Linked DNA regions of Homo sapiens. The protein of the gene in region 1 purifies or fractionates together with the protein of each later gene. This does not show direct contact. Each region holds a gene or a part of one and is shown in the gene's direction. Other genes may lie near its edges.

Region 1 (3,500 bases):
GTCCTTGGCCAGCGAGAGGACACTGCGGGTGAGCTGCCAAGGACACGCAGGCCTCTGTAGCTCCTCTGTTTGAGGTTAGGATTTCTCCGGAAGGCGTGGTATCACTGAGCTTCAGGGAAGTGTTAATGAATTTGGGCCCTTGCGGTTTGTAGGCACTTATTCCTCATAAATGTCAGAGGACAGTCATATAAATGAACATATTTAATGACTGATTCCGTAAATATGGTAATGAATAACACTACCAATTTAGGAAGGAAATCTTTTTTTTTGAGAGATGGGGTCTTGCTCTGTCACTCAGGCTAGAGTGCAGTGATGCAGTCAGCTCACTGCAGCCTCGAACTCTTGGTCTCAAATGATTCTCCCTCCTGCCTCATCCTCTCAGACTACAGGCATGTGCCACCATCCTGTCTAATTTTTAATTTTTTATGTTGCCCAGGCTAGTCTCCAACTCTTGGTCTCAAGCTATTCTTTTGCCTCGGCCTCCCAAAGTGCTGGGATTACGGGTGTGAGCCATCGCTCTTGGCCATGGGTAGCTTTCTTGGGGTGACTACGGTCTTACTAAATTGTGTCACTGTAATGTCACAGAATTCTCTTTGATCAGTGGGTCGCGTAGCTGGTGATTTTTGATGAAAGGGTAGAAAGGCAATTTTGCTGCTCTCTGTATTTTTAAATGTTATAATTCAGCATCTCTTTATTTGATAGGTTCGAGGCTATAAAACATTTCTTCGTTTATTTCCTCATGAAGTTGCCGATGTAGAGCCTGTTTTAGATTTGGTCACAATTCAGAATCCCAAGGACCATGAAGTGAGTGTCTCTGCCTCCCCCCTCGTCTCCAGCCCTCCGTGCCTGTCCTTCCTCCCTGCTTGCCCCACCCTGCTGCACCTTCCCCTTCCTGTTTCTTTCATTTTATCTCCCTTTGTTTTGTGTCACTCCTCTTTTCTTTCTTTTCTTTTCACTTTTCCTTTACTTCTTGTACAAGTTGCTTTAAATTATTTTCGTTTAAAATAGCCCCTTTATAAAAAAAATTATGCCTAGGTGTAGTTTAACAATAAATCCGTCATTGTTTCTATGTTTTTTTAACTGTGTAAGTATAACTGTGTTGGGTTCCCAAGACCACCCCCAGGTTTGATACTTCCTGAGCGGGACTCACAGCACTCAGCATAGAGTCCTCCTTTTGGCTGTCACTTGTTATGGCAAAATAATACACAGCAAAATCAGCAAAGGGAAAAGGCACATGGGTGGGGTCTGGGGAGAACCAGGCGGGAGCTCCCGGGGTCCTCCAGTTGGGTCCCACAGGGCCTGTGTCATTCCCCCAGCAGTGAGATGTGACCACACCTGTGAGGTGTCTATCAGAGAAGCACGTTTGAGACTTGGTGCCCAGAGCTTTCACTGGGGTCTGGCCACATGGACACCTCTGCCTGGCACGAAACGAAATTCCAGACCCCCAGCAGGAAAGCAGGTGCCAGCGTAAAGCACACGGTTTGTGCAGATTGAGCCAGCGAGGGACCTCATCAGGCAGGGCTTGGTGGGAACCCTGCTGGTGTCCAGGTCCCTGGATACCAGCCCAGGGCCGGCCTCGTCAGGGGCCTTGCCTCAGACGGCAGCGGGGCCTGCTATGCTCGCTGTCTTCTGCGTGGTATGTATTTGGAGGAGCACACGGTTTATAACCGTGCAGTGCGGTGGCTTGTCTCGGCGTGGATGTGACTGATGAGCGCTGTGGGGCATTTCCCTGCTGCCCTGCACTCCGTGCCCTTCTTTCCCTAGTACTTCTAGCGCCCCCCAGTGGAATGATTGCAGGGACAAATTGGGATGTTTTTTACTAATTACTGAAAATAAGGGTACTCCTTTTTTATTAGAAGTTGATAATTGTTTTCTTTATTCTTTTTTTTTTAAAAAGACAGAGTTTCACTCTTCTTGCCCAGGTTGGAGAGCAATGGCACAATCTTGGCTCACTGCAACCTCTGTCTCCCAGGTTCAAGCGATTCTCCTGTGTCAGCCTCCTGAGTAGCTGGGATTACAGGCATGTGTCATCACGCCAGGGTAATTTTGTATTTTTAGTAGAAACAGGGTTTCTCCATGTTGGTCAGGCTGGTTTAGGACTCTTGACCTCGGCCAGGCACGGTGGCTCGTGCCTGTAATCCCAGCAGTTTGGGAGGCCAAGGTGGGCGGATCACGAGGTCAGGAGATCGAGACCATCCTGGCTAACACGGTGCAACCCTGTGTCTACAAAAAATACAAAAATTAGCCTAGCATGGTGGCAAACGCCTGTAGTCCCAGCTACTCAGAAGGCTGAGGCAGGAGAATGGCGTGAACCCGGAAGGTGGAGCTTGCAGTGAGCGAGGTTGCGCCACTGCACTCCAGCCTGGGCAACAGAGCGAGACTCCATCTCAAAAAAAAAAAAAGGAACTCCTGACCTCAGGTGATCCGCTCGTCTCGGCCTCCCAAAGTGTTGGGATTACAGGTGTGAACCACCACACCTGGCCTTTTTTCTTTATTCTTAGGTGTTTTTACTTTTTATCTGTTTTTCACTTTTTCAAAAGGCCAGTTTGTATGTGGAGAGGTGCCAGCGAAGAGAAGCTGCTATACTGATGTATTATGATTTTTCTTTGTTCATTTTGATGTCTCTCTTGTCTGCTGAGCTAAGTTACGGCGGTAGGTGTGTGTGGTGGGGATTCCGGGGGGGATGTGGCGAGGAGTTGGTGAACGGCTTGCATTTCTGGCCCTGAGGGTGATGGCATTTGAATGGCTTTCATAGGCATTGGGTGGGCATGGAGGGCAGTGACTTTGAGTAGATTGTGGCCAGTGGCCTGTGATTTTCAAGCAAGACTCATTCTTCCCGTGGTTTAATTTTTTAGGCTTGGGAAACCCGCTACATGCTTTTGCTCTGGCTCTCCGTGACCTGCCTGATCCCTTTTGATTTTTCTCGCCTTGACGGGAACCTCCTCACCCAGCCTGGGCAAGCACGAATGTCCATAATGGACCGTATTCTCCAAATAGCAGAGGTAAATATCATGCAGATAATTAGCTGCTAATTAGTACTCACTTTCATGTTCATGCTGTCTTGATGTTAGTGGTTTACTCGGTAAGCTTCTGATATGTATTCAACTGCTGTTTTTTTCAGTGGGGTAAAATCCCATAGGATAACTTATTTTGAAATTGTGATAATTCATGTAGGGGTCAGGTTGAGTTAGCAAATCTCATTTCTTTGTAGATGATGCAAATACTCTGTTGAGGGTAATCATGGCAGATAAGGAAGGGTTTAGTGGCATGGTGAGAGAGAATAAGGACCCATTTTACATTTAGTTCTTAACGTTATATAAATAATAGATGCTCATTTGTAGGAGAACTAGAAAATAAAGATAAGCAAGAAAAATACTAAATTTAAATTTATGAAATTCTAGTGCCAAGAGATAAGTTGTTTATTTTCTCCGAACTTTTCCTGATGTAAATATTATGCATATAAACACAGCTTATTGTATTAGTTATCTATTGGATCATAA
Region 2 (2,699 bases), on another chromosome or scaffold:
TGCTTCCACCTTTTGCCTATTGTGAAAAATACTGCTCTGAGCATTAACGAGCAAGTATCTGTCCGAGTCCCTGCTTTCAGTTGTTTCGGGTATATACCCAGAAGTTGAATTGCTGGATCATATCATGTTCTATTTTAATATTTTGGGGAACTGTCATACTGTTTTCTACAGTGGCTGTACCATTTTACATTTCTATCAGCATTGCCTCAGGGTTTCAATTTCTCCATATTCTCGCCAATGAGGGCCTACACTCTTAATCATTGTACCATATTGCTGATCCAAGGTAGATGAGTGAGAAGAGTCATAAAAAACATGGTTGTATATTCCCAAGAACTGTTTTTGTTAAATGTTACAGTCTTGACACACATCCTTTCACCACTCTAGGAGAAAAAAATACTGCTAAAAAATAGACTATTCTTTGTGTTGTAGAAAACTGATGAATTTTTATTTCCTTTCAGTTTTTCTAGATGACATTCAATCCCCTCCCTGCTTTGGTTAACATCATTACTTCAGTTTATTGAATATATTGAAAAAAATGTATATAGTATTCTAATCATAGTTTTCACTTACAGCTTTTGAGAAACTGGGAAACAGTCCAGTCTTGTTAGATGAGTGGGTTACTTTCTGCAAAAGACTATGGTATTTTTTATAGCTCAAAGTAGATCTGTCTGAGGACATTGCAACCCTTTGTGCATTGATTGACTGCAGTGAATAATTCAAGATGGAATGAAGGCTTTAAACCTCATTATTGTTTGGTCTTGTAGTTTTCAAAATTATGTACTGTGAAGTCTTCAAAGTGGGCTTTAGAATTTCTTAAAAATTAATCTTTTAACTCAATATTTACTGTAATAGTGTTCTCTTTGAAGGAAGTTTTAACTTTGGTTAAAAATGCTTATGATATAAAAAAGACAAGTATTGTTTTTGTTTTGCTTTTAGTGGCTGACAAGATTTTGAAAAAGAAAGAATACCCTCTTTATATAAATCAAACCTGCCATAGAGTTACTGTTTCTCCATACACAGAAATACACTTGAAAAAGTATCAGGTAAAGTCATCTCTGTTCTCTCATTTTCAGAACTCACTGCCCAAACCCACCCCACAAAAAATAAAGTTGTTGTGAGTCTGTTACTTATGCATCTTATCAATGAGGGATAGCAAAATGGTTTCTTTACTTCATTTTTGCTTGGTGCAAAATGAGTTTGTCTTTTGAAGGAGCATTTTAATGCAAAACTGTACTTTATTATACAATTTTTAAAACTGAAATTACTCAGATAATGGCACAATTTTTATTTTTGTACATGGAGACATAGTTGCATTTCTCTCATATGTCTACTGTCAGTGAGCATGAGAAAGAATTCCTGCCTACTTTCTCTGAACTCATTATCTTTACCCCAGACCTGCTCCCTTTTCCTCTTCCTTCTCAGGTATCCAATGGTACCACCATCTACCTACTCCACCAACTTAAAAGCTAGAACTCATACTTAACTCTTCAGTTTGCTTCACCTCCAACATTCATTTGGTCACTAAATCTTGCCAGCTCCACTTCTGACTACCTCTTTACCTGGTCTTTCTGTTCCCAGAGCATCCCTCCTTTCCTCTGTGTTCCATAATGCCACCAGAGTTCTCTTTCTAAAACTCAGATCTGACTTGGATATTCTCTTGCTTGGAAAATCTTCCTAAGATTTCTTGTCTCTTCTAAGATAAAATAAAAAATATTAAGCAGAGATTATGAATGTAAAGTTTTGTAATTCAAAGCTCTTAGAAATCTTTCTATTTATCATTTTTTCCTTCTTAGATATTTTCAGGAACATCTAAGAGGACAGTGCTTCTGACAGGAATGGAAGGCATTCAAATGGATGAAGAAATTGTGGAGGATTTAATTAACATTCACTTTCAACGGGCAAAGAATGGAGGTGGAGAAGTAGATGTGGTCAAGTGTTCTCTAGGTCAACCTCACATAGCATACTTTGAAGAATAGACTTAACAGAATCATGAAAACTATAGCTTTTTAACCCGGATTACTGTAAATGTTTGACAAAAATGAATATGCTTTTCCTTAAAAAATGAAAACTTTAATTTTTACCATCCATTTATGTTTAGATACAAAACTTATTTCCATGTTTCTGAATCTTCTTTGTTTCAAATGGTGCTGCATGTTTTCAACTACAATAAGTGCACTGTAATAAAAAGTTTTGTTTATAGATTATGTGTATTGGTGCCATGTCTGCTGAAATCAACCTTAAGTGATTCAGATGTCCCCTGCCAGTGCTGGCTCATCCTGTTATGGTCTTGTGGGCCAATTCAGTTGTGGCCCCATGCCCACCAATATGCAGACTTGACTCTTAACATTTTCCAAAACAAAGGCAGTTACATTCAGCAGTTGGTGATTCCTGTAAACTCAACTGAAGATTCGAAGGACTTCAAGAGCAACCATTTACCACTGTGCATAGCATTTCACTCCACAACTCTAAAGGTTCTCAGAGCTGAGTGTGATCTTTTTCTTGAATTTCTGTTCACCCAAGTGCCAAGTGTCCCTTGATTCCTTCCAAGCCATCCCCTCTCCAAATAGAGCTCGTAAAGGACTAGCTTTTTCTTTCTTTTGCACTTACAATGGAAACAATTGGTATAAGAGTTTGAAAACCTTGGCATGGAGAGAGAGGTAAATACAAAGTTAGTGACTCATCACTTATCATGCTCGATG
Region 3 (3,500 bases), on another chromosome or scaffold:
AGAGGGGACAGGGAGAGCAGGCTGGCACCCCAGCTTCCAGGGGCCTCCCAACACCGTGACCCCTAGGCTTCTTCAGCCCTCCCCGACCTCCCCCACACTCAGTGTGGCCTCCTCTTAGTTCCTCCAAGGCATCAAGCTCCTCTGCACCCAAGACCTTGGTCCAGGCTCTGACCTTGACCCAAACTGCTCTGCCCCCACTCCCCCCAGGTGGTCCTTCCCATCTTTCAAGGCCCAACTACAAGACCACCCCCTCGGAGGTCTTTTCTGACCACCCCCATCCTCACCTCTGCTCTTTTTCCAGGACCTGCTTATTCCTTGCTCTTCTTTGGATCTCCCCGCAAGGTGGGGAGGAGGCAGGGCCATATGGTCTTGTTTGCCACTGTGTCCCCAGCACCTAGCATGGTGCTACATACATATTGGGTGCTTAATAAGAGTTGAATGGGCCAGACATGGTGGCTCACACTGGTAGTCTCAGCGTTTTGGGAGGCTGAGGCAGGAGGATCACTTGAGCCCAGGAGTTCCGGGCTACAGCGAGCTGTGATTGCACCACTGCACTCCAGCCTGGGCGACAGAGTGAGACTCTGTCTCAGAAGGAAAAAAAAAAAAAACTTGAATGGAAGGGTAAATGGACAGATAGAGCAGCTGGCCAGGACGGGGCATCAGAACACTATGCTAGCTGGGCTCAGGGACTCATGCCTGTAATCACAACATATTGGGAGGCCGAGGTGGGAGAATCATTTGAGCCCAGGAGTTTGAGACCAGCCTGGGCAACATAGCAAGACCCCATCTCTATTTTTGTAATGAAAACATTATGCCTCCAGGTTATTTGTTCTTAAACTTGAGCATGCATAAGAAACCCTTGGGGAGCATGAGAAGCATTCAGATTCAGGGGCCCCACTCCCTGAGAATTTGGTTCAGGTGGTCTAGGGTGGGGACCTAGGGTTCTGCTTTTTTTTTTTGAATGTCCTTTGTTTTTTTGAGACAGGGTCTCACTCTGTCGCCCAGGCTGGAGTACAGTGGCGCAATCTCGGCTCTCACTCTGTTGCCCAGGCTGGAGTACAGTGGCGTAATCTCGGCTCACTGCAACCTCTGCCTCCTGGGTTCAAGCGATTCTCCCGCCTCAACCTCCCAAGTAGCTGGGATTACAGGGTCATACCACCACGCCCGGCAAATTTTTGTATTTTTAGTAGAGACAGGGTTTCACCATGTTGGCCAGGCTGGTCTTGAACTCCTGGCCTCAAGTGATCCACCTGCCTCAGCCTCCCAAAGTCCTGGGATTACAGGCATGAGCCACCGCGCCCGGCCAGGTTCTGCACTTTTAACAAAACGCTCTCATCTTTTCTCAAAGTGACTCTGCTGCTGGAGGTCCAGGGGCCACAGGTTGTGAGTCCCTGCTAAGCAATGGGCTAGGAAGATTCTGATGTGATCAGAACCTGGCTGGATACACAAAACAGGTGGGGCACAGGGAGGATGGGCCAATAAGAACTGTTCCAACTCTCCAGGGTCTCTGGTGTTAGGTAAGGGGGCTCTATTCCTAAGCCCACCCTTTTTCTTGTCCTCCTTAGTCCCAAAGATGCCCTCCGAGCAGTAAAGAAGAGAATCGTGGGGAATAAGAACTTCCACGAGGTGATGCTGGCTCTCACAGTGAGTGCCCCATCTGTCTGTCCTGTGGCAGGACTACGGTCCACTGAAAGTCACCTCCCCTCAGACCCAGCAGGACTCCCAGCCTCCTCTGAGCTCCTCATTTGAGAGCTGGAAAGGTCTGTAGGCAACGCACTGTCCTGTCTACACTGCAGGCGGATGCAGAATGGCAAGAGGCCATTTGGAAAGGTTCTCCCCAATCCCCCAGCATGGGAACAGACGCTTACATCACTCCAGAACCACTGGCAGGGAGAGCCTGGGCCAAAGGACCTGTGGGTGACATTGAAGCTCAGTAAACCCAGGCCTCCGCGGGGGCAGGGAGGCCGGCTGACTGAGTTGGGTGCTGCTCGGCACTTTGGTGCTCTGGCAAATGAATGTAAAATAAATACCAGTGGCTGAGAACAGTCTTGCCCACACCACTGAACCAGCCCAGATCTCAGGGCGGCCAGACACACGTGGGCCTCCTAGCCGTCAGCATGGGTTTGGCTGGGGAAGATATAAATGCTGTCCCACCCTCCTCCACAAGCAGCATTTATATCCAGGTGAATTGGCTTAAGCAAAAAGCAAAGGCAATTCCTGCAGTGGGAAGTGGAGAGTGGGGAGGGAAGTTCAGTGCCTTTTCCCTGGGCCACAGGCTCACCAGTCGATTGACATCTCAGATGCTCCTTGATTTCCTCTTGGAGAGCCCCTTCTCTCTAGACCATGTTTAGCTCAGAGACAGCATTGGGATTCTGCGTGCACTGACGCCAGTCAGGGAAGGAAGTCCAGCCCACACACCATACCTCTGCCCACCCTAGGCCGTGCCCTCCAGTAAACAAGTCCCCCAGTCCTGGCATTGTCCCAGTCCTCCACATTCAAGGGTCTCACTCCAGGAAGTCCCATCTCCTCTCCCGGGCCTCCTCTCTGGGACACAGGAGGAGCCACGAGGGTGGGGGTTCTGAGCACCTCCTCTCCTCTGACCAAGGTGCTCGACGGCACCTCTCGGCCCTCCAGGTCTTAGAAACCTGTGTCAAGAACTGCGGGCACCGCTTCCACGTGCTGGTGGCCAGCCAGGACTTCGTGGAGAGTGTGCTGGTGAGGACCATCCTGCCCAAGAACAACCCACCCACCATCGTGCATGACAAAGTGCTCAACCTCATCCAGGTGAGTGCCAGGACAGGGCAGGGCACGGCCAGGAAGAGCTGTCAGTGCAGGAGCTTCCTGCCCAGTGGAGAGTCGAGGCCATCGTGTTTGTCCCAGGCTCCGCTTCTCATTTCGGGGCGTCTCGGTTGTCGGCTGGTGGGATGTTCTGTGGGGAGGGAGGCTTGCCAACTGCGTGCTTTGCTGTGGAGTGGGCAGGGCAGATGTAGTTAAAAAAAAAAAAAAAGCAGGGAAAGAATGTCTGTTCTCTGTCTGAGTGCCAGGTGGGCAGGCTCACAGGTGAGCTGTGGTTACCGGCTGTGTCCCCTTGTCCCCTCTCAGTCCTGGGCTGACGCGTTCCGCAGCTCGCCCGATCTGACAGGTGTGGTCACCATCTATGAGGACCTGCGGAGGAAAGGCCTGGAGTTCCCCATGACTGACCTGGACATGCTGTCACCCATCCACACACCCCAGAGGGTGAGAGAACTGCCGTACCGGGAACCAAGGGAAGGGAGGCAGGACTCATCCCCAGAGACATCACCAGGCTGGCCCCTGACTTCCTGGGCTCTTGATGTTCCCAGGAGCCCTCACTGATCCTGTTTTCCTCCCACTAGACCGTGTTCAACTCAGAGACACAATCAGGACAGGATTCTGTGGGCACTGACTCCAGCCAGCAAGAGGACTCTGGCCAGCATGCTGCCCCTCTGCCCGCCCCGCCCATACTCTCCGGTGACACGCCC
Region 4 (3,500 bases), on another chromosome or scaffold:
AGCAAGAACTGTATTTGAAATTTGGTTAAGTTTTTCATTTGGTTATCTTTTGTGACTAGTTCCAAAGAGGTGTTTGAAAGCTCGAGAACATTTTGGTACAGTAAAAACACATCTAACATCTTTGAAGACCAAATTTCCTGCTGAACAGTATTACAGGTTTGTAAGAAAAATAGCATTATTTTATAATGTTAAGTAAAAAAAAGGAGAAAAATTATGTGTACCAAATGATTGCTTACAACTAGGCAAACATCCTGTGTAGAAGTAACAAAAAGAGAAAAAACCGAACTAATAATGGTCATGACAAAAATTGGTGATTTTATTTTTTTCTTCTTTTTACTGTCTAAATCTTAAGGAACATGTATTACTTTTGCAGTGAAAAAGCAATTAAAAAGAAAATGTGGTATGAGGGTCAAAAGTGAGAATATCTTTTTGCTATATTCAAGTTTCTTGTGAAATTGGATGAACTATAGTTAGTGAAATAATGAGATTAGGTGGCAGTATATATATGGAGTCGAGTTTTACTTTGAAGCTTGAATTTCACTGCCAAGTGATGTAATTAGCTAATATTTTATGCCATGTTTTCTTATTAAAATCAACACTGTTGATTTTAAGATACACCATTATTTTATGTACCAGTAGGGAAGGAAAATTTTGCCAGTCATAAATGTGAAACATGGGCCAGGCGTGGTGGCTCACACCTGTAATCCTAGCACTTTGGGAGGCCTAGGTGGGCAGATCACCTGAGGTCAGGAGTTTGAGACAGCCTGGCTAGCATGGCGAAACCCCGTCTCTACTAAAAATACGAAAATTAGCCAGGTGTGGTGGCTTATCCCTGTAACCCCAGCCACTTCAGAGGCTGAGGCAGGAGAATCGCTTGAACCAGGCAGGCGGAGGTTGCAGTGAGCCAAGATTGTGCCATTGCACTCCAGCCTGGGCAACAGAGTGAGACTCCATCTAAAAAAAAAAAACAACTTGTGAAACATGGATTGTGAAATGTCTCCTGGTTTCATAGGTGTTAAACTGGGAAAAACTGCACCTGAATCAAAAGTTTCTACTTATTTTAATTTTCTTACTGAAAAAGATGTTCTTTTAAGACGTATATATCAGCAGTAAATAGGATGAGTATTTTCAGGGGGTGGGTAGTATAACCTTATGAGAATATTCTTTTAAGGGAGAGGTTGACAAACCACTAGTGGCTGCTGCCTCTGGGAGCTAAGAATTGCTTTTGTTTTTTCAAGAGTTGTTAAAAAAAAGAAAATCCCAGATAAGAATATGTAACAGTGAAAGCGTCCCACAAAGCCTAAAATATTTACTACTTGGCCCTTTACAGAAAACATTTGCTGATCCTTGCTGTAAGGCAGGGGTTCCCAACCCCCAGGCCATGGACTGGTACTGGTCTGTGGCCTGTTAGGAACTGGGATGCACAGAAGGAGGTGAGCGGTAGGTGAGCGAGTGAAGCTTCATCTGTATTTACAGCCGCTTCCCATCACTTGCAGTACTGCCTGAGCTCCACCTCCTGTCAGATTGGTGGCAGCATTCGATTCTCATAGTAGTGCGAACCCTATTGTGGACTGTGCATGCGAGGGATCTAGGTTGCATGCTCCTTATGAGAATCTAATACCTGATGATCTGAAGTGGAACAGTTTCATCCTGAAACCATCCGCCCCCCTTCTGTGGAAAAATTGTCTTCCATGAAACCAGTCCCTGGTGTTGAAAAGGTCAGGGACTGCTGTTGTAATAGCTGAAGCACAGAGAGAGGTAGGACAGTAGAACAGGTGGGGTCTTTAGAGACCATCTTCTCTGGAGGTCACACACAGGCTGCCCTCTGGCTGGATTTGGCCTTCAGAAGGGTTTGTGTGACCTGCATTATGTTGAGACCTTTTTTTTGAATGTATTGCCACATTTGAGAATCAGGAGGCATTGCATAAATATCCACAGGTTGTAAAATTTCCTTTTTTCAGGCTTCTAGCTCAGTATTCTATTTTAAGTGCATTTGTTTAGTGATTGCAAATGGTAATTTTGTGAATCAGAATTTTCTTGGTATTCTGCACTCAAATCAAAATGGAGGAATACGTTGAGGATGATACATAACTGCAGTTGTCTTCAATCATCAGTTACAAATTTTTATTTTTTTCAGAGCAGTATCACTGTTCTTACTGATTAAATTTAGAAGGCACAATTGCTCTTGTCATCTGTAATCTTCAGTTTTCTTTTTTCTGTCTTTTTTTTTTTTTTTTTGAGACGGAGTGTCGCTCTGTCGTTCAGGGTGGAGTGCAGTGGTGTGATCTTGCGCACTGCAACCTCTGCCTCCCAGGTTCAAGCAGTTCTCCTGCCTCAGCCTCCCGAGTAGCTGGGACTATGGGCGCCTGCCACCACGCCTGGCTAATTTTTGTATTTTTAGTAGAGAGGGGGTTTTGCCATGTTGGCCAGGCTGGTCTTGAACTCCTTACCTCAGATTGATCAACCTGCCTCTGCTTCTCAAAGTGCTGGGATTACAGGCGTGAGCCATCGCACCCGGCGTAAATTTTCATACTCATCAAAATTAGACCATATTTGTCACTGATTAAACTTAATTGTTATAAATTCGAACTTGTAAAATTAATGCTAAATGTCATATTTCTCTTTATATATTGGGGGTTTGTGTAAGATTTTATTTGAAAAATGATCGCATTTCTAAACCGTTTGAACATGGCTGTATTAAACCCATCTTTCTGAAGGTCCCTAACCTTGGAGGCTAAATGTGCTTATTTTCATGCAGATTTCATGAGCACTGGAGGTTTGTGTTGCAGCGCTTGGTCTTCTTGGCAGCATTTGTTGTGTATTTGGAAACAGAAACACTAGTGACTCGAGAAGCAGTTACAGAAATTCTTGGCAGTAAGTGTCTTTATTAGTGGGATCTGCAGAATCAGGCATGGTTGCTTACTTTTTGGTGGAAAGGGTGGTTGTACTTTGTTTATTAAAACAAACAAGAATTAACTAAAAACCACTTATAGTTGTAGCTTGGTATCTGAGGATGATGCTTCCAGAGCTCTTCCAATACCCAAATCTGAGGATGTTCAAGTCCCTTATATAACTGGTGTAGTATTTGCATATAACCTATACACATTCTCCCACATACTTTAAATCATCTCTAGATTTCTTAAAATATCTAATACAGTATAAGTGCTATGTAAATATTTTTTTTTTTTTGAGACAGAGTCTCTGTCGCCCAGGCTGGAGTGCAGTGGTGCAATCTCCGCTCACTGCAACCTCCACCTCCCAGGTTCAAGTGATTCTCCTGCCTCAGCCTCCCGAGTAGCTGGGATTACAGGTGCCTGCCACTATGCCCAGCTAATTTTTTGTATTTTTTTTTTTTTTCCGAAATGGAGTTTTGCTCTTGTTGCCCAGGCTGTAGTGCAATGACGCAATCTCAGCTCACCACAACCTCCACCTCCTGGGTTCAAGCATTTCTCCTACCTCAGCCTCCTGAGTAGCTGGAATTACAGGCATGCACCACCACA
Region 5 (3,500 bases), on another chromosome or scaffold:
CCGGGCTGGAGTGCAGTGGCGCCATCTTGGCTCACTGCAACCTCCGCCTCCTGGGTTCAAGTGATTCTCATGCCTCAGCCTCCCGAGTAGCTGGGATTACAGTCGCGGACCACCACACTCAGCTAATTTTTGTACTTTCAGTAGAGATGGGGTTTCACCATGTTAGCTAGGCTGGTCTGAAACTCCTGGCCTCAACTGATCCGCCCACCTCAGCTTCCAAAAATGCTGGGATTACAGGCGTGAGCCACTTTGCCCGGCCCAGGCTATGCTTTGCTTTTTTTTTTCTTCTTTCTTTTTGAGACGGAGTTTCGCTCTTGTTGCCCACGCTGGAGTGCAGTGGCGCCATCTCTGCTCACTGCAACCTCTGCCTCACGGGTTCAAGCAATTCTCCTGCCTCAGCCTCCCAAGTAGCTGGGACTACAGGCATGCGCCACCATGCCTGGCTAATTTTGTATTTTTAGTAGAGACAGGGTTTCACCATGTTGGCCAGGCTGGTTTTGAACCCCTGACCTCAGGTGATCCACCCGCCTCGGCCTCCCAAAGTGCTGGGATTACAGGTGTGAGCCACTGCACCTGGCCCAAGCTATGCTTTTCTAATGATCAAAAACATACCAATTTGTCCCAAAATTTCAAATAGTGCATCTGGTTCTCCCCTGCATCCTACCACCACTACCACCTCAAATTATCACAGATAATTGACATTTAGATGTTCAAGCCACATCTTCCAGACTACCCCTTGAACCTGGAAATGGCATGAAAATCTCCAACTAGATCCTGAATTTTCGGTATCCATTGTTATTCCTCATCCTATTTTTTTGTCCAGGTGGGAAGCTCTGTCCCCATTACTCTCTCTATTCATCCATTCCTCCAAAATGCACCTCCCCTAAACCACCTCCACCTTTCCACCCTCAGCCTCTCCCTGCTCCTAACTGCCGTCCATCCTGAACTTCTGCAAAAACCATTCCCCTCACACATTGCCATATATATGCCCTTGGAAAGATTACAGACTGTGTAGGGGGCTGGTTTTTGTTTGGAGTCTGTGTGTTTGTCCCTGGAATTTCTCCAGGCATTTCTGGACTCCACCCTTTGAAGTAACTATGCAGCCTGTCTATCCAGTTATTCTACCTAACTAAGCACATAAGTGGAATTTCAGAGATTAGTGCTATGGCCGGGCACGGTGGCTCACGCCTGTAATCCCAACACTTTGGGAGGCCAAGGCAGGCAGGTCACTTGAGGTCAGAAGTTCAGGACCAACCTGGTCAACATGGTGAAACTCTGTCTCTACTAAAAATGCAAAAATTAGCCGGGCATGGTCATGGGGGCCTGTAATCCCAGCTACTGGGGAGGCTGAGGTGGGAAAATCAATCACTTGAACCTGGGAGGCGGAGCTTGCTGTGAGCCAAGGTCGAACCTTTGTACTCCAGCCTGGGCGACAGAGTGAGACTCCGCCTCAAAAAAAAAGAAAAGAAAAGAAAAGAGATTAGCACTATGGAGGTCTACACTATCTGTTGATAGTCTGTGAGCCTTGTCGTGATTCTCAAGGGCAGTTAACACTTTCAGGGAAAGTCATTTTATCTCAGACCTAATAACAAAATAGATGCTAAAGCATCTGAGTGACAAGATGAAGCGAAGTCAGGATTTGTAGTCAAGAGACCAGGGTTTAAGGCCTGGCGCAGTGGCTCACACTTGTAATCCCAGCACTTTGGGAGGCCAAGGCAGGCGGATCACTTGAGCTCAGGAGTTTGAGACCAATCTGGGCAATATGGCAAGACCCCATCTCTAAAATTATTCATAATAATATTTTATTTTTAAAAAATTTTTTAATAAAATAATAAATAAAGAGACCAGGATTTAAAATCCTAGCTCTACTACTTTAACCATGCCAACGTGAACAAGCTGCTTAGGTTTTCTGCAAAATAAAGGTGATATCTCTGTTATGAGGATTAAATGAGATAATGGAGAAACTGGCTCGTCCAACATAGTCAGCATTCAGTTAACATCTATTCACCCAGACTGGATAGGCCCAGGTCACTGATCTGTCTGATAGAATCCTCCCAGGTCATAGTCACTTGACTCTGTGTGTGTGTGTGTGTGTGTGTGTGTGTGATGGAGTCCCACTCTGTCACCCAGGCTGGAGGGCAGTGACGCAATCTCGGCTCACTGCAGTGTCCGCCTCCCGGGTTCAAGTGATTCTCCTGCCTCAGCCTCCTGTGTAGCTGGGATTACAGGTGTGCGCCACCACACCCGGCTAATTTTTTGTATTTTTAAGTAGAGATGGGGTTTCGCCATGTTGGCCAGGCTGGTCTCGAACTCCTTACATCAAGGATCCATGGTGTCTCATGCCAGTAATCCCAGCACTTTGGGAGGCCGAGGTGGGTGGATTGCATGAGACCAGCTTGGGCAACATGGCGAAACCCCATCTCTACTAAAAATACAAGAATTGGCTGGGTGTAGTGGCACGCACTTGTAGTCCCAGCTACTTGGGAGGCTGAGGTAGAAGGATCACTTGAGCCCAGGAGGTCAAGGCTGCAGTGAGCTATGATCATGCCACTGCACTCCAGCCTGGGCAACAGAGCAAGACCCTGTTTAAAAATAAATAAATAAGAAAGGCTGCCATCTTCTGCAGTCATTTTTTTCTTTCTGTAAATTTCCAGGCTGATGATATCACATTTTATGAGGCATTTTGCTTTCCCCCAGCATTTTAATGAGTCTTGGCCTTGTCCCTTATCAGCCATCACTTACTGCAAACTAAGTTCTCTCTCGTGCTCTGTCACGCATAGCTCTAAATGGCGTCTTTTTTCTCTCTCTCTTTCTTTTTTAATTTAAATTGTTTCATCAGCTCAGTTACTTAATAACATGCCTGTAGAATGGCTTAAATTTCGCATTTACCTGGGGTTTGTCTCCGTTCTCCTGGATTCATAGACAGTTACACAATTATGTGTATAATTTAAACAGCCATTCCCAGAAGCTCCGAAGGAAAGATGGGTTACAGGATTTTAGATTTAACTATCAAAGGCTCAGGGGCTAATTAACTAGCACTTGGGTGGAAATTTATATTAAGTCACACATATCTAGGACTGAAATCTTCATGTAGCAGCACGTCATAGGTTCTGAAGTATTTCTCCTTTATTCCTCATCATAACCCCCACACCACGCATTGATATCGTTACCCCCATTTGACAGACGGGGAAAACAGACCTAGGAAGGTTAGATGCTTACTTAAGTGATACAACTGGAGCTTAAGTTCAGGTATTCTGACTCAAGGGTTACCAGAGTTCACAAGGAAAAATACAGGACACCAACTTAAATCTGAGTTTCAGATAAGCAATGAATAATTTTTTAATCATAAGTATATCTCTTGCATAAGTACATCTCATGCAACATTTGGGATATACTTACACTAAAATATTATTTGTGGTTTATCTGAAATTCAATTTAACTGGGCGCCCTGCATTTTATCTTACAACTGTGACTCCCAAATTTGGTGCTTGTTCCTTAGT
Region 6 (3,457 bases), on another chromosome or scaffold:
ATATCAGAATGCTTCCTAGTATATTATTGGAGAAAGAACAAACAAAAGTTTAAATTGATATAAAATGCATATAATGGAACAAGCAACCCTGCAAAAAAAAAAATATATATATATATATACCATCTGGGAATTTCTGATAATAACATTGAAATCTGTTCACACAGTCTAAAATTCTTTTGATGTATCGTAGTTTTGAAAAAAAGGTAACAGTTTACTATATATAACAAATATAAGGAAAATATTAAATTTTTTGAAAGATACTAGTTTTTATTTTTGTTCATTTTTTAGAGACAGGGTCTCACTATGTTGCCCAAGCTAGAGTGCAGCGGCCCGATTATAGCTCACTGCAGCCTCTAACTCCCGGACTCAAGGGATCCTCCCACCTCATCCTCCTAACTAGGACCACAGGCGCATGTCACCACATCTGGCTGATTTTAAAATTTTTTTGTGGAGACAGTCTTGCTGTGTTGCCCAGGCTGGTTATGAACTCTTGGCCTCAGGCAGTCCTCATGCCTCAGCCTCCCTAAGTGCTCGGATTATAGGCATGCCACTGTGCCTGGCCAAAAATACAGATTTTTTAATAGATATTACTATGGCTCCTATTCTTAAAGGAAAAAATATGACATTTTAAGACTATATGCAAGGGATATTCCAATAATATCTTTTTTATTTAAAAAGCCACTAATTAGAATCAGATTTCATTAGGCAAGTGAAATCCAGATTTTACTAGCCAGAAACTGCCAGGTGTAGAAACAGCAAGAACATTTTAGTCACTTCATTGTTGACATTTTTGACTATCATAGATTAAGTATCAAACACAATAACAGTATTTTGTTATATGAACCAAATATATCTCTTTTTACGAGACATAGTCTAGCTCTGCCATCCAGGCTCAACTCCTGGGTTCAAGGGATCCTCCTGCCCCAGCTTCCTGAGTACGTACCTGGGAGTACAATTGCATGCTGCCACACCCAGCTATTTTTTTTATTTTTGTGGAGATGGCGTCTTGCTATGTTGCCCAGGCTGGACTCCAACTCCTGACCTCAAGCAATCATCTCACCTTGGCCTCAAAAGTGCTAAGATTACAGGCATGAGCCACTGCATCCAGCCTGAACCAAATATATCTTTATTATAACTTAGGAGAGAAACGTTTTTGGCTGGTTAGTTTTACAGAATTAAACCTAATGGTTGTTCTAATAGCAGTTCCAATGATTTGCAGATTTGAGGAAGTAAATTATTTTCTTACAGTGTCCATAAAAGTAACAATGAAACTATATCCTACCATAATAATCCTCTATAGGTAATAAATTATTTGCATTTTATAGGAGAGAAAAATATATGTTAAAGTTTTTGAACAGTCACACAGGCAGGAAATAAATGGCAGTGAATTTGAACTTGGACTTATCTTGGACAAGCTCTTAACTGGTATATATTTTGTCAATCTTATGTCGTGCACAAGAATGATGTTTTTATAAATGGAAAGAATGAGTGTGGAAGTGTCTTCACTTGCCTAACAGAAAGGTTATATGTGGCTGGGCGCCGTGGCTAACGCCTGTAATCCCAACATTTTGGGAGGCTGAGGTGGGCATATCATCTGAGGTCGGGAGTTCAAGAATAGCCTGACCAACATGGAGAAACCCCGTCTCTACTAAAAATACAAAATTAGCCAGTCATAGTGGCACATGCCTGTAATCCCAGCTACTTGGAAGGCTGAGGCAGAAGAATTGCTTGAACCCAGGAGGTGGAGGTTGTGGTGAGCCAAGATCGCGCCATTGCACTCCATCCTGGGCAACAAGAGCGAAACTCCGTCTCAAAAAAAAAAAAAAAAAAAGTAATACATAAATTTAAGTGACATTTGTGGGTACTAAATTACAATAATATGTTCAGCTTTGCATTTTTTTGCCTTTAAAATTAATTTCAATTTTAGCGTGCCACTAAACGTATTACTGTAATAGTATATAAATGTATAAAGATCAATTTCTGTATATTCTAATAGGAATTGTATATAAGCAAAAATGAATTTTAGAAATTATCCTATTATTCATGTAATTATGTCATTCATGTTATTTAAAGGAAACCACAATGCAGACAGGTTAAGTACCTAGTGTGAAGGTATGTAACCAATTAATGGAGCTGTGCGACATACATCTGAGTAATAAAGACTACAGAGAAAGTATCTTGTTAGGTACTATCTGATACAAAGTTTAGAAACATGTCAAACAATTCTATGTATAGTTGGTGAAAGTGTAATAACATGGCTGAGACTTAATACCAGATGAAGTTCAGTGGTTTCAGGGGGAGGAAATAATTTTTAAAACGATGTCGATAACACTTCACATTTAAAATCATCATAATAATTCTAATTCTAGAATTGTGTCTAATTCTAATACTGTTTCTAGCTTTGCTTGAATAAACAGAAATGTAGTAGGGAAGAGACAGAATGTTTAGCTTGCAGTATCTAATTACTCATTTGGGTATCTGGGAAGATAGCTCTCCATGGCCCCACTGTCACTGACCTATAATGCTTCTCCTGACGTCTTCGGTAAAATCCAACAGATTACAAAGAAACTGGAATGCCTTGAAGAAATAGAGCTTTTTGTGTGATGTCAGATTCAATAGACCTCTAATCCTTAGTAAAACAGTACAAAACAGTAGAATAATTTTTAGTGTTTTCTAATATCAACTGAGGTTTTATTTGGGAGATTAACCAGAGGTTTGCACAAAAACAAAAGTGAAGACCATTAGTCTTTAAAGAAACTAAGACTCTAGGTTTGGATCCCATTTGTGGAGCCCTACATTCCAAGTCATCTAATGTTCTTGTCTAGTTAGCTTGTAAAAGTCTATACAATGGAGGAAAACCCCTTTTTTCCCCTTAGTATAAGTGTATTATATGTTGATAGAAAGGATAGAAAGTTAAATAACAGTTCAGTAAATGTACTTCTAAATGAAATTTAAAAGTACTTTAAAGGTGTTAAATTATTTCACTTTCTAAAGAGGTTTTATGCAACACTAAAATGTAATGACTGAGCTGCCTCCTTTTGTTAAGAGACTAGTGCAAGTAGAGTCTTGCTCTGTCGCCCAGGCTGGAGTTTAGTGGCACAATCCCGGCTTGCAACTTCTGCCTCCTGGGTTCAAGTGATTGTCGTGCCTCAGCCTCCCAAGTAGCTGGGATTACAGGTGCACGCCACCACATGGGGCTAATTTTTGAATTTTTAGTAGAAACAGGGTTTCACCATGTTGGCCAGGCTGTTCTCAAACTCCTGACCACAAGTGCTCCGCTTGCCTCAGTCTCCCAAAGTGCTGGGATTATAGGCTTGAACTACCACGCTCTTCCTAGTGCAAGCCATTTAAACATTGTATCCAACAGCTAAAGAAAGAATTCATTCCACAGGCATTTATGAAATATGAGAGACTTGACTCCTGTCCAGGAGAAGCATCAGCAGCTAGCTCTACATTA
Region 7 (3,500 bases), on another chromosome or scaffold:
ATATTTTTTTCTTTTTATGTTTTTCACAATACATACTTCTAACTGCAAGACCTCTTTAAGAAGATGACTAAGAAGGGATTCCCCCAGTGTTTCTCTAAATAGCTGTTTTGTTATGTAGACTCCCCCTCTCTTTTTGGGGGGTACGTGAGCTTCTTATCACTAGCCTCAGATCCAGATACTTCTCTAAATATCTTTCTTATAAGTTCCTTATTTTTCCTTTCAAGAAGTTGTGAGCTTAAGGTTTCACCTCTTGCCTCTGAGTTCCCCGTTTTGTGCTGGAGGAAGCTCTAAAGAGAATGTCAAATTGGAGATGGGAAAATGTTCCCTTTGAACTGTGGCATGTTCTCTTCTGGAGGGAAGTTCTCAGCCTGACATGTCTATTTAAAAATAGCTGTGGGAGACCATCCAATACCTCCCTTTTCCCCACCGCTGATCATCTTCCCCAGGCCTTAGATACCCCTGCTTCTTCATCCCATAAATATCCCTAAGCCCTCTCTATGGAGAGGGGGATGTGAGACCTGTTCTCCAGCCTCCTCACTTGGCAGTCTTATGAATAAACCCTCTCGTAAAAAAAATAAATAGAAAAGAAAAGAAAAGAAACGCTGTGGGGAAGATGGTGATGGTCCCTGGGGACAGCTGTCTACTCCAGGAATTGATCCTTGGCAATCTGCATCCTAAACTCACGTCCTGCTGTTGGGAAGCCACAAAGCCATGTGAAGTCAGAAAACAGGCCGACGATGAGTCCTTGGGATTGTATTTGTATCAGCAGAGGATTCTCAATCCTCAGGGTTTTTACTTCTTGGCTGTGACCCACATTGTTCATGTCTTGACTTGGCAAATCTCAGTTTCTGACAGCAAGAAAGGTCCTTAGAGTCCATTCGATGAGCCTGTAAACTCTCAGATCAGATTCCCATCTGTGCAGCCTTTCCCTTCTCCTTCCCTCAGCCACACGGGTGGGGGCGCTGGCATGGTAGGACCCAGGACTGTCTTTAACATGGGGGAGGCAGTCATGGGAATGTGCTTGCTTTCCGGGAGGCTTTAGATTGTTCTCTGTCACTTCTACTCTCTGTGCTTCCTGTTTCTTTCTCTTCCTCTTTATTTACTCGCCAGTTCTTACAAGCTTCCTTTGTGCTGGGTGCTGAGCGGATACCAAGATGAATAAGTGTAGGCTCTGCCTGCAAGGCAGTCCTCCCTTCCATTGCTCTGGGATTTTTGTTGTTGTTGTTTTAAGATGGAGTCTCACTATGTTGTCCAAGCTGCAGTGTAGTGGCTATTCACAGGCATAATCGTAGTGCACTGCAGCCTCGAAATTCCGGCCTCAGTGATCTTCCTGCCTGAGCCTCCCAGTAGCTGGGACTGCAGGCACCCACCATCGCACCTGGCCTTCCATTGCTCTGTACAGGGTGACTGGCTGTCCTAGTTTGCTAGGGACTGAGTGAGGGTTCACAGGACTTGGGAATTTCCATTTGAAAACTGGGACAGTCCCAGACAAACTGGGAGGAGTTGGTGACCCTAGGTCTGTGCCTCATTATACTTTTCTTCCTAACAATAAGTATAACTTTTATTTATCGAGTGCTGGCTCTGCCAGCCACTTTATATGTAGCATCTTTCTTCAGCTTTAAAACAGCCCTGTGATGTGGGAGTCCCCATTCTGCAGAGGCCCGACAAAGTTGGGGATGCATGCATGAGGTCATGCTATTTTTTTTTTTGAGAAGGAGTTTCACTCTTGTTGCCCAGGCTGAAGTACCAAGGTGCAATCTCAGCTCACTGCAACCTCTGCTTCCTGGGTTCAAGAGATTCTCCTGCCTCATCCTCCCGAGTAGCTGGTATTATAGGCATGCACCACCACACCCGGCTAGTTTTGTATTTTTAGTAGAGATGGGGTTTTACCATGTTGGTCAGGCTGGTCTTGAACTCCTGACCTCAGGTGATCTGCCCACCTCGGCCTCCCAAAGCGCTGGGATTACAGGCGTGAGCCACCGCGGCCAGCCGGGGAGGTCATGGTATTAAGCACGGAGCCTGGCTTTACACCCAGGCCTGTCTGTGTTCTTAGTGAGGGCGCTATACTGCATCCTTGCTCAGGAGGAACGGCTCTGAGATAGAGGGGTTATTTCACACCAGACTCCCTCAAAGCTCTGACACACTAGCGCAAACCCTGAGGGAAGCTGCAGAGGCAGGTGTGGGGGCTGTGGCGCTCCCGCCCTCTGCTGGCCAACCTGGACCTGCAGCTCAGCGATGGCCTCTTCTATTCATTACAGACAGTTTTAATGGACCAGTCTCGCTTCCACGAGCTCCAGTTGCAGCTGGAACAACTGACCATCCTGGGGGCTGTGTTGCTGGTCACCTTCAGCATGGCAGCGCCAGGAATTTCCAGCCAGGCCGACTTTGCTGAGAAACTCAAGATGATTGTGAAGATTTTGCTAACAGATATGCACCTGCCGTAAGTGGAACTTTGATGCGTGGATGGGACGCAGTGGATGTCAGAGAGCCGACTGGAGTCTCCCAGAGGGGTCTCCCACTGTAAGGCAGAGCCCAGGGCCACTCTCTAGGAACTGAGAAGAAACCTTGCTGTCTCAGTTGGTTCACTTGGCGAAGACCCCAGCAGAGTTTATTTAGGGTCATAGGGTCAAAGTTAGAATCTGCTGCAGGGTTAGCAGAGCTCTAGGATAGTGGCTTCAAAATGTGTGTGACTAGCCGAGTAGCCTGTCGGGCCTTAGAGGCCACACCAAGGAGTTGGGTTATTGTCCTAAGAGCAGTAGGGAGCCATTGAAGGATTTGAAGCAAGAGGGGGAACGTAATTAGATTTATGCCCTTAAGTTTAAATTTTGGCATGGGGCACATAGTAGATGTGAGGGAGCATTTAGGAGGCGAGAGAAGAAGTGGCTCGGGCTGGGGGGTAAGCCATGAGCAGGGTGGGGAGCGCTGGTACCAATGGTTGCTTGCCTTGAGGAATTGGAGATCCCGGGCTTAGAGGTCCCGCGGCCCTCCATTCCCTGTTAGCATGCTCCTCCCGGGGCCTGGCTCGGTGTTGAGTGCCATCAACTCATTTGTTCTCCCTACGCAGGGAGCAGGATGCTGTCTGACCCCTTCCTTCTTTAATGGGGTTGTCTTTGTCTCCTGACCTCCAAGGTTCTTGTGTTTGTTTGTTGAGTGCTTTATTCCTCTCCCAAAGCCATTCAAATGTATTAAACTCTTACTGGAGCTTATGAAGAAACTGGAACCCAGAGACATTAATTGGGACAAAAATGTTTGTGACTAGGACCTGCAGTAAGAAATTCATTTTCCATTGTGACCTAGTACACACTTAACACACGTGTAACAGAAACGAAAACTTCTCAAACTGGAACTGACCCTAACTGTGTTTAATGCAGCCTGATTGTTTCTACTCTATTCTTATTCCATTAAAAAAAAAAATTGGTTGCTACCCACTGAATTGCTTTCATAACCGACTAACAGTGAAAAGCAGAGCCCTAGAGGAAGGTCATGAGAGAAACCAGCTA

The links.
Region 2: the proteins of TBCD (region 1) and NMI fractionate together in Homo sapiens (co-fractionation; one large-scale study listed by BioGRID). This does not show direct contact.
Region 3: the proteins of TBCD (region 1) and TOM1 fractionate together in Homo sapiens (co-fractionation; one large-scale study listed by BioGRID). This does not show direct contact.
Region 4: the proteins of TBCD (region 1) and TSN fractionate together in Homo sapiens (co-fractionation; one large-scale study listed by BioGRID). This does not show direct contact.
Region 5: the proteins of TBCD (region 1) and TPM4 fractionate together in Homo sapiens (co-fractionation; one large-scale study listed by BioGRID). This does not show direct contact.
Region 6: the proteins of TBCD (region 1) and WDR12 fractionate together in Homo sapiens (co-fractionation; one large-scale study listed by BioGRID). This does not show direct contact.
Region 7: the proteins of TBCD (region 1) and TCP11L1 purify together in Homo sapiens (affinity purification with mass spectrometry, with the first as the bait; one large-scale study listed by BioGRID). This does not show direct contact.

The regions. Positions count from the first base shown.
Region 1 is NC_000017.11:82,765,565-82,769,064, forward strand, and holds part of TBCD (tubulin-specific chaperone D), read left to right. Parts: intron 1-702; coding exon 703-804; intron 805-2,855; coding exon 2,856-3,002; intron 3,003-3,500.
Region 2 is NC_000002.12:151,269,970-151,272,668, reverse strand, and holds the end of NMI (N-myc-interactor), read left to right. Parts: intron 1-936; coding exon 937-1,043; intron 1,044-1,793; coding exon 1,794-1,976; 3' UTR 1,977-2,199; downstream 2,200-2,699. UniProt on the Homo sapiens protein: Acts as a signaling pathway regulator involved in innate immune system response.
Region 3 is NC_000022.11:35,320,394-35,323,893, forward strand, and holds part of TOM1 (target of Myb1 membrane trafficking protein), read left to right. Parts: intron 1-1,348; exon of another isoform or gene 1,349-1,454; intron 1,455-1,565; coding exon 1,566-1,644; intron 1,645-2,605; exon of another isoform or gene 2,606-2,634; coding exon 2,635-2,784; intron 2,785-3,102; coding exon 3,103-3,237; intron 3,238-3,374; coding exon 3,375-3,500.
Region 4 is NC_000002.12:121,758,651-121,762,150, forward strand, and holds part of TSN (translin), read left to right. Parts: intron 1-59; coding exon 60-156; intron 157-2,758; coding exon 2,759-2,874; intron 2,875-3,500. UniProt on the Homo sapiens protein: DNA-binding protein that specifically recognizes consensus sequences at the breakpoint junctions in chromosomal translocations, mostly involving immunoglobulin (Ig)/T-cell receptor gene segments.
Region 5 is NC_000019.10:16,096,995-16,100,494, forward strand, and holds part of TPM4 (tropomyosin alpha-4 chain), read left to right. Parts: intron 1-3,500. UniProt on the Homo sapiens protein: Binds to actin filaments in muscle and non-muscle cells. Plays a central role, in association with the troponin complex, in the calcium dependent regulation of vertebrate striated muscle contraction.
Region 6 is NC_000002.12:202,873,761-202,877,217, reverse strand, and holds the end of WDR12 (ribosome biogenesis protein WDR12), read left to right. Parts: 3' UTR 1-2,957; downstream 2,958-3,457.
Region 7 is NC_000011.10:33,063,572-33,067,071, forward strand, and holds part of TCP11L1 (T-complex protein 11-like protein 1), read left to right. Parts: intron 1-2,258; coding exon 2,259-2,440; intron 2,441-3,500.